2 linked regions of the Homo sapiens genome follow. The protein of the gene in region 2 interacts with the protein of the main gene of each other region in a pairwise test. Each region holds a gene or a part of one and is shown on either strand. Other genes may lie near its edges.

Region 1 (3,744 bases), on a different chromosome or scaffold from region 2:
ACAGAGGCAGCTAGTCAAGACCTATGCAGGGACTCTGCCAGGGGTGGGAGACTATCTACCAGCTCCCTCCCTCTCAAGAGGCTGTGGGGACACAGAGCCCACCTACAGATACATCCTGTGCTGGATAAGACTGAAGCCCTCAGATTCAGGCCAGAGCCTGGGTGGCACAGGGAGCAAGCTGCAGACAGAGACAAGGGGAGCTCTGCGACCACATTACAAGCCATGTGCCATGTGCCATGCCACCTCCTTTACCTGGGTAACCCATGCATCTGCACAAGGCCTTAGGAAGTGACGACGAGAGCTATCCCCATGTTCTAGAGGCACAGAGCAGTTAAGTAACTGGCCCAAGATCACAAAGCTCACCCAGTGTCACACAGCTCAACCAGTATCAACCCAGGTTAAGAGCCCAAGCCACACTCTGAGACAAGGTGCCCTTTGGGTGGCGAGGCTCCTTGAAGAGGGAGCTTCTCCAGGGTGGGCAAAGGTAACCCCTGCTACAGGGGCCAGAGAGCTGGGCTGAGCTGCAGGAGATGCCCAGTAGAGGGGGTGGGAAAGATGGAGGCTGAGGGGCTGTCAGGCCGCGCGGAGGGATGGACAAGGGAGCTGCCACTGGAGATAGAGCAGCAGTAGGGACTGCCCTCTGTCTCCCAGCATGCTTCCTCCCCTTCCCCCACAAAACAGGGCCCTGGCCACAGAATGACTTTCCAAGCCTCCCTTGTTGGCAGGTAGGCACGAAGTTCTCTCCAGGGGAACATGAGAAGTGGTGCAATTTCCGGTGGCTTCTACAAAAACAGCATTGCTTGCCCTGCCTTCCTCTTCCTCCTAGAGCATGAGTTTGCCTAGGACCCAATCTCCATGGCCAAACGCGATGCCCCAGGCAGGATGGGTAAGCTACGGCCTGTGGACCAAATCCAGCCTGTTTGTGCAAGTAAAGTTTTATTGGAATGCAGCCTCACCCACTCATCTCTGTACTGTCTCTGGCTACCTTTGCGCTACAGAGTTGAGTAGCTACAACAGGGCCATATGGCCCACAGAACCTGAAACACTCACCTTCAGAGAAAAGGTTTTTGACCTTCACCCTTAGGCATACAGGGGCAAGATGGAGGGATGACCTGATCTTCCGCAAGCCACTTGCCCTGGGGCACCCACCTCAGTCAGAAGTGAAGGAGAAACAAACTCCCCTCTTCTTTAAGCCACCAGATATGGGGATTGCTTTATAGTGCGCGCGCACGCGCACGCACACACACACTCTCTCTCTCTCTCACACACCCTGGCAGAGCAAACCTTCAGCACTCTGCTGCTGCCCTGCAGCCTTGGCTTACGGACACCTTGGGGCAGCTGGAGACAGAGGCAGGCAGCAAGGGAAGAGGAGACTGGGAACCCAGAACCCCAGGGATCTGCAGCACCACAGAGAGGAGGCTGTCCCCACCCACCCTCCACCCTCCTGCTAGAGAAGCTGAGGATCCCAAGTGGCTGACAAGTGTGGAGTGTCTGTGACACAGGCTCATCACTCATCCTCTCTCTGGAGCCCAACAAGGCTTCCTCTACCTGAAAGAAAAATCCAAAGTCCCACAGCCTTCCCCTCCAGCCTTCTCAAAACGTCAACCATGGGGCCAGCTGGGCCCTTCCACAGACCCCCAGGGCCCTGGCGCTCCCTCTCAGCCCACGGCAGCACAGGTTGTGTGCCATCCCCAGCTCTGCCTGAGCCCCCACCTCAGTGTGGTCGCTGTACATGTAGTAGAGCACGTGAGTGAAGACGTCGGGTGAGATGCCATGCAGGGTGACGGCTGGGGGGCCCCCTGAGGTCGCTGGCTCCTCGCTCTCTCGGAAGTGGTCATCCAGCAGGGCTCGGAAGTAGTCACTGCGGCCACAGAAAAAGGCCTGGGGGAGGCCGGGCTCAGGAAGTGTGAGGGCCAGGGTCTGTCTCCTGAGGAGCTAGACGGGGGCTCAGGGCAACGGGCTGGGGCCAGGGGCAACAGGAGGGCACAGGCACCTTGTGGCAGAGGAAGCTGCAGCCAGCCACTCGGAAGCAGATGTCAGGGCAGCTGTTGAAGCCGTCAGGACAAGGGAAGGGCAGCTCCCAAAGATCACCCTGGGGTACAGAAGAGGTGACCCCATCAGAGCAGTTGTTCACAGAAGTGAACGACTAGGTTCAGAAAAGGGAAGTAACTGGTCCAGGACCACACAAGGAATTGAGCCCAAGTATCTGGGCTGCCTGTCACGGCCTGCCATCCCAAAACGCCCTTCCTGCCCACCAGCCCCGCACTTACTCGGAGCTCGGGGGGCAGGGCACAATCGGCCAGCAGCGCCATGTCCTCCCGGAGGCGGGGGTCTGCAGGTGGGGGCTCGATGGTCAGCACCTTCACACACGTGCCTGGCTTAGACGCCACTACAGGGGAAGAACAACTTCAGGGAGCCAGGCCAGCCCTGCCAGGCCGCACCCATGGCCCCGGGCCCCAAACCCTGCTCGCACCAAACTCAGACACCTTCTCGCACTTGGCCTCCAGGTCGCTGAGCAGGTCCCACAGCTGGCATTGCTTGGCCAGGCGCTCACAGTCACTCACATGCTCTACGCCAATGTCCAGGCGGCCTGGGGGCAGTGGGGAGGATGAGGGCCTGCGGGACCTCAGCTGTCATCAGGCCCACAGAAAAAGGGTGATCCCCTCCCACCTGGCCACCTGGCTGCAGGACTAGGACTCCTGGGCCCACTTGCCACCATGGTTTCCCCATCAAAAGCTGTTCTACAGGCCCCAGGGAACAGATGGGAGGGCCTCAGCATGTGGGTGGGACAAGCTCTTCCTGAGCAGGCACACTAGTCCTCTCTCTTGCAACCCAACCCGAGAGGCAGCTGGAACCACCCCGGGGGGACCATGAAGTGTCTAGAGGTGAAAGGTCAGCCCAGCCACACCTAGGTGTACTGCTGTCCAGAAGGACGGCCCACTCCCTCTCCTCCTACCCTGGACCCAGGGGGTCACCTGTGTACAGGTACTGCAGCAGGGCCCCAAAGGCCACGGGGTTGATCTGTGGGCAGAAAACCAGAAAGTAATGTCAGAGGCAGCCACCCAGCACAACCTCCTGCTGTTCCTGGACAGTTCATGCCCCTCTGCCACCCTGAAGGGACATACCAGTGGGTGCCTGAGAACCACGACACTCTTGCCCTTCCATTTGGTGTCCAGCATGTTGGCAAAGTAGGCACTACGTGCACCCAGGACGCAGCGATGCACCCGGAATGGCTTCCCGTGTACTACAAAGACCACGTCACTGTGGATGCCCTGCTCTAGAAGCCTGGGGAGGGACAAGCCAGGAGGGAGGATACTTGGCACAGCCCCACCCCATTCCTCGGAGCACTCAGAACCCAGTGCAGGCCACAGTCAGAGCAGACTCGCCACACCCACCAGGGCCACCGCACCCCATGCTGCACCCCTCGTGTGCCCTGGCTCACCGCTGCAAGAAGTCGTCATAGTAATCCCGCCTCCTGCAGGAAGCCGTGACCTGCTTGTAATCGCGTAGAGCCCGGCGGATGGGGTCACTCAGTGCCCCATAGAGGCAGCGCTCACCATCGAAGGTGTTGGCCTCGCAGCGGGCTCCTGGGGGAGGCAGGGCTCACCAGTTAGCAGGGAAGGGGCCTGGGGGAAATTCTAATCTCCCTGTCCCTCCTCCCCACCTTCCCACACATGGGGCTCCGAATCTCTGGCGATGCCTTCCCAAATTACCCTGGGCCCACTCTGACCCCAACACCCTCCC
Region 2 (3,744 bases):
ACACCTGTTATCCAAGCACATTGGGAGGCTGAGGCGGGTGGATTGCTTCAGACCAGGAGTTTGAAACCAGCCTGAGCAACATGGTGAAACTCCATCTCTACCAAAAATACAAAAATCAGCTAGGTGTGACGGATGCACCTATAGTCCCAGCTACTGCCGAGGCTGAGACGGGAGGATGGCTTGAGCCAGGGAGTGGAGGCTGCAGTGAGCTGAGATCATGCCACTGCACTCCAGCCTGGGACTGACAGAGACTCCATCTCAGGAAAAAAAAAAAAAAATTTAAAGTGTTTTAAAGTTGTAGGAGAAAATTTTTAGGTGCAAGATTCTTTATGTAAGACTAAGAGTCCTCTTAAAATTAGTCAAACTAATAATCTACAACAGAGCTGTTAATTTGGCAACAAATTTTTAATTTGTATCAATCTAATGTCTGTCTTTCACATACTTCCAAACATTACATAAATTATTTTACCTAGTGCATACAACTTTCAAAAACTGTATTTGGCAATTAACAGACCCCTGACAATTATTAACAGGGGTTTTACATCCCGGAGTTTGAGTGTCTGCGGGAGAACCGTCCCTGCAGGAGGCACTCCCCCTCCACCTGCGACCCGGGCTGGGAGAACGCGCGGAGGGCTCCCTTGAGCGGTCTCCGCCAGCGAGGCTTTCCTCCCGGTCGGTGTTGACAGTGTGGCATTTCTGTTATCTAATTTCTGGTTTTGACTGAAAGCGAAGTGAGTTTTCTCATCAGTGGAGTTGTAATATTTCTGCAAAAAAAAAAAAGATCACAGCCCTCCGATGAGCCGGGCACTATGCGAAGTCTCCGGCTGCCTGCGGGCCGCTGTGGACGCCCCGGCGGGGGTCAGGACCGACCCCCATCTGCGCGGCGAACGAGCCCGGACGCCCTGGCCGCGGCCGCCGGGTCCCCGCCCAGGGGCCAGGTGGCCAGGTTGCGTCGGGAGGAGGAAATGGAAGCGCTCTGAGCGACTAGCGAGCGGCAGGAGCCGCCTCCCGCGGGCTTTCCTCGCGGGCCGGGAGCGTCTGCCGCCGACCCGAGGACCGCAGGGCCCCGCTCGCCGCCCGCGCCCGTCAGAAAGCCGCGCGTCGCTCCCGTCGCTGTCGGGGTCGTCGGCTCGGGGAGTCGCCCGCCGTCCACCGGTGAACGGGAGCGCGTCCTCCCCTCCGAGGGACTAAGCGCTCGCGCCACGCATCCCGCCGCGCCGGAAGCGGGGACTACTGGCGGCCCAGCTGGGCAGGACCGCGGCCGAATGACCCGGGGCGACCCCGCAGCAAGGGCGCCTCCGGCAGGCGGCAAAGTCCCCTGAGAATCGGCGCGCTCCTCGCCGCGACGGACTCCACCCGGCCGGGGCGCTCAGCCTCCTCGCCGTGGCCCCCAGCCCGGCCGCCTCCCCTAACGGCCGCCGCAGGCTCCCCTCATGGACCGAGAGCGCGGGCTTGCAGCGCGGCAGCGTCCGTTCGGCGCGCGGCTCCGGGCAGGCCCGCCCTCCCCCGTCCCCCTGCGCCGCGAGGCCCCCCCCCCGCCCCGCCCTCCGGCGCCCGGCGCCCAATCAGAGTGCCGCGCACGTGACGAGCGATGCCTGCGATGACCTCATCCCTGGTGTGGGATGACGTCAAATTCAAGATGGATGGAATCACAGCGGCAGCGGCGGCTGCGGCGCGCGCGAGCCGAGTGTGAGCGGAAAGGGGCCCGGCGTCTGCCTCGAGACTGAAGACCGGTGAGTAACTGTCACGCCCCTAGCTCTAGGAGAACTGCGGGGCTCCTTGGGAGGCTACAGCCTCCCCGCAAAACGCGGCCTTTCCTGACGTAACTCTGAGGTGATTTCTCTCCTCTTTTTTCTCCACCAGCGGGTTGCGGGCTCCGAGCGCTTCTGCGCGTGCGCGGGACCTGGGCGCTCACCGAGCATGTCCCGGGTTCCCACGTAGCCGATTGTACCTTCACACTGCGCACGCTCCCTGCCAGCACTTGGCCTCGCCCTCGCGAATGCGCATGCTCCATTCCCTCACGGGCTTCACTCTTCACCCTGGCCGAGCTGCCCCTGGGGTAGGGGACACGCCTGGCCCAGGCGCGCGCCCCTCGCGCGGAGCGGTTGAAACGCCTCGTGGAGAAGGGCGCGTTCTCCTGTTCCGGGCAGGGGTTGGGGGCCGGCGGCCCGGGCCGCGGGGTGTGCGCGGAAGCTGGCCGGCGGCCTTGGGGACCCCGCACCTGCCGCGACCCGCCGCTCCCTTCACGGTCCGGGACCTAGCCCCGCCGCCCCGTCCTCGGCCCGGTGGCCGGAGCGTGACCGCTCGGTGCCCGCTGGACGCTCCCTCCCCGCCCCCGGCCCCTCCCGCGGACGCCTGGACCTCACAGCGCGTTTTTTTTCCTCCAGAGCCCCCGCAGACCTTGTCTGGGACTTCCCGGCGGTCCCGCAGAGCATAGCACCCTCCGCCGGCCAGGAGCCCTGCTGCTCGGCCGGCGACCGTCTCCCCGCTTGGAGGAGCCCCCTTCCCCCCGTCCGAGGTCCGCGGCTGGAGGGGCAGGGAGTCAAGACGCCACCCGTGCCGGCCTTAGAGACGCCCGCGGCAGCCCCGCCACATCTCTTCCCGGCTTTTCGGGAACACGCCCCGTAGTCCATCCTCAGCGGCTCCTGCTTTTCCATCCCAGCACACCGCTGGGGGCTCGCACTCTGCCCCCGGTTGCTATGCGGTCCCAGCCACGAGGGCTCTGCGGTTCGGGAGAATTCCGCAAGAGCGCGCGTTCGGAGGCGGGGTGTTTTTAGACAGGTGCCCCGGTGGGATTGCCTGACCGAGAGGACGGGGAAAGTTAGACTTCACACGGCCTGGGGTTTTTCCTTTCGTGCAAGCGCTCACAGCCCTGGCACCGAGCCTCCGAGGGCACGCGTGTGTTACAAAATAGTCCAGCGATTGTTCACACGATGACCCTGAGTCCTCAATTAAGCAGCTTACATTACGGTCCTCATACCTTGTTTAAGAAGACAAGAAAGTGGGTTAATCCATTTTAGAAAGATTTCTCATGGAAAATTATCTTTTAAAGCTTTCCTCGTGTACTTGGAGTAAATGATGATCTCTAAGGACTAGTAGTCATTAAGTTTAAATTTAAGCACCCCTAAATATTGATGTTAAAAAGAAAGTCAAAATTTGAAGTGCTGGTTTACTTAAAAGTAACTTTTTGTTTATTTTTCCTTTTTAACACTTTATTGAAAGTATAATGTGCTTCATTCTGTTGAAATAGAAGTTGAAGAAGATATAACCCCTGCCCTCGAGGAACTTACACTGTTGAATATTAGATGTGTACACTCTGAAGGAAAAATTGTAAATAACAAAATTGGGGTTAAGTTAAGAAGGTCTCTCGATGGAAATGAGATAATTAAAGGGACAATTTTTTCTTTTCTTTTCTTTTTTTCTTTTTTTTTTTTTTTTTTTTTTGACAGAGTTTCACTCTTGTTGCCCCAGGCTGGAGTACAATGGCGTGATCTTGGCTCACTGCAACCTCCGCCTCCCTGGTTTTGCAACCTCCGCCTCCCTGGTTCAAGCGATTCTCCTGCCTCAGCCTCCTGAGTAGCCGGGATTACAGGCTTCCGCCACATCGCCCAGCTAATTTTTTTTTTTTTTTTTTTTTTTTTTGTAGAGACGGGGTTTCATCCTGTTGACCAGGATGGCCTTGAGATCTCCTGACCTCGTGATCCACCCCACTTGGTCTCCCAAAGTGCTGGGATTACAGGCATG

Evidence for each region.
Region 1: the proteins of ZBTB21 (region 2) and ABTB1 interact in binary tests that used the Homo sapiens proteins (3 or more experiments, as listed by UniProt).

Annotation. Positions count from the first base shown.
Region 1 is NC_000003.12:127,675,813-127,679,556, reverse strand, and holds part of ABTB1 (ankyrin repeat and BTB/POZ domain-containing protein 1), read right to left. Parts: intron 3,588-3,744; coding exon 3,443-3,587; intron 3,286-3,442; coding exon 3,126-3,285; intron 3,022-3,125; coding exon 2,976-3,021; intron 2,591-2,975; coding exon 2,474-2,590; intron 2,390-2,473; coding exon 2,271-2,389; intron 2,093-2,270; coding exon 1,994-2,092; intron 1,882-1,993; coding exon 1,714-1,881; intron 1-1,713. UniProt on the Homo sapiens protein: May act as a mediator of the PTEN growth-suppressive signaling pathway. May play a role in developmental processes.
Region 2 is NC_000021.9:42,008,241-42,011,984, reverse strand, and holds the start of ZBTB21 (zinc finger and BTB domain-containing protein 21), read left to right. Parts: upstream 1-1,624; 5' UTR 1,625-1,733; intron 1,734-2,387; exon of another isoform or gene 2,388-3,744. UniProt on the Homo sapiens protein: Acts as a transcription repressor.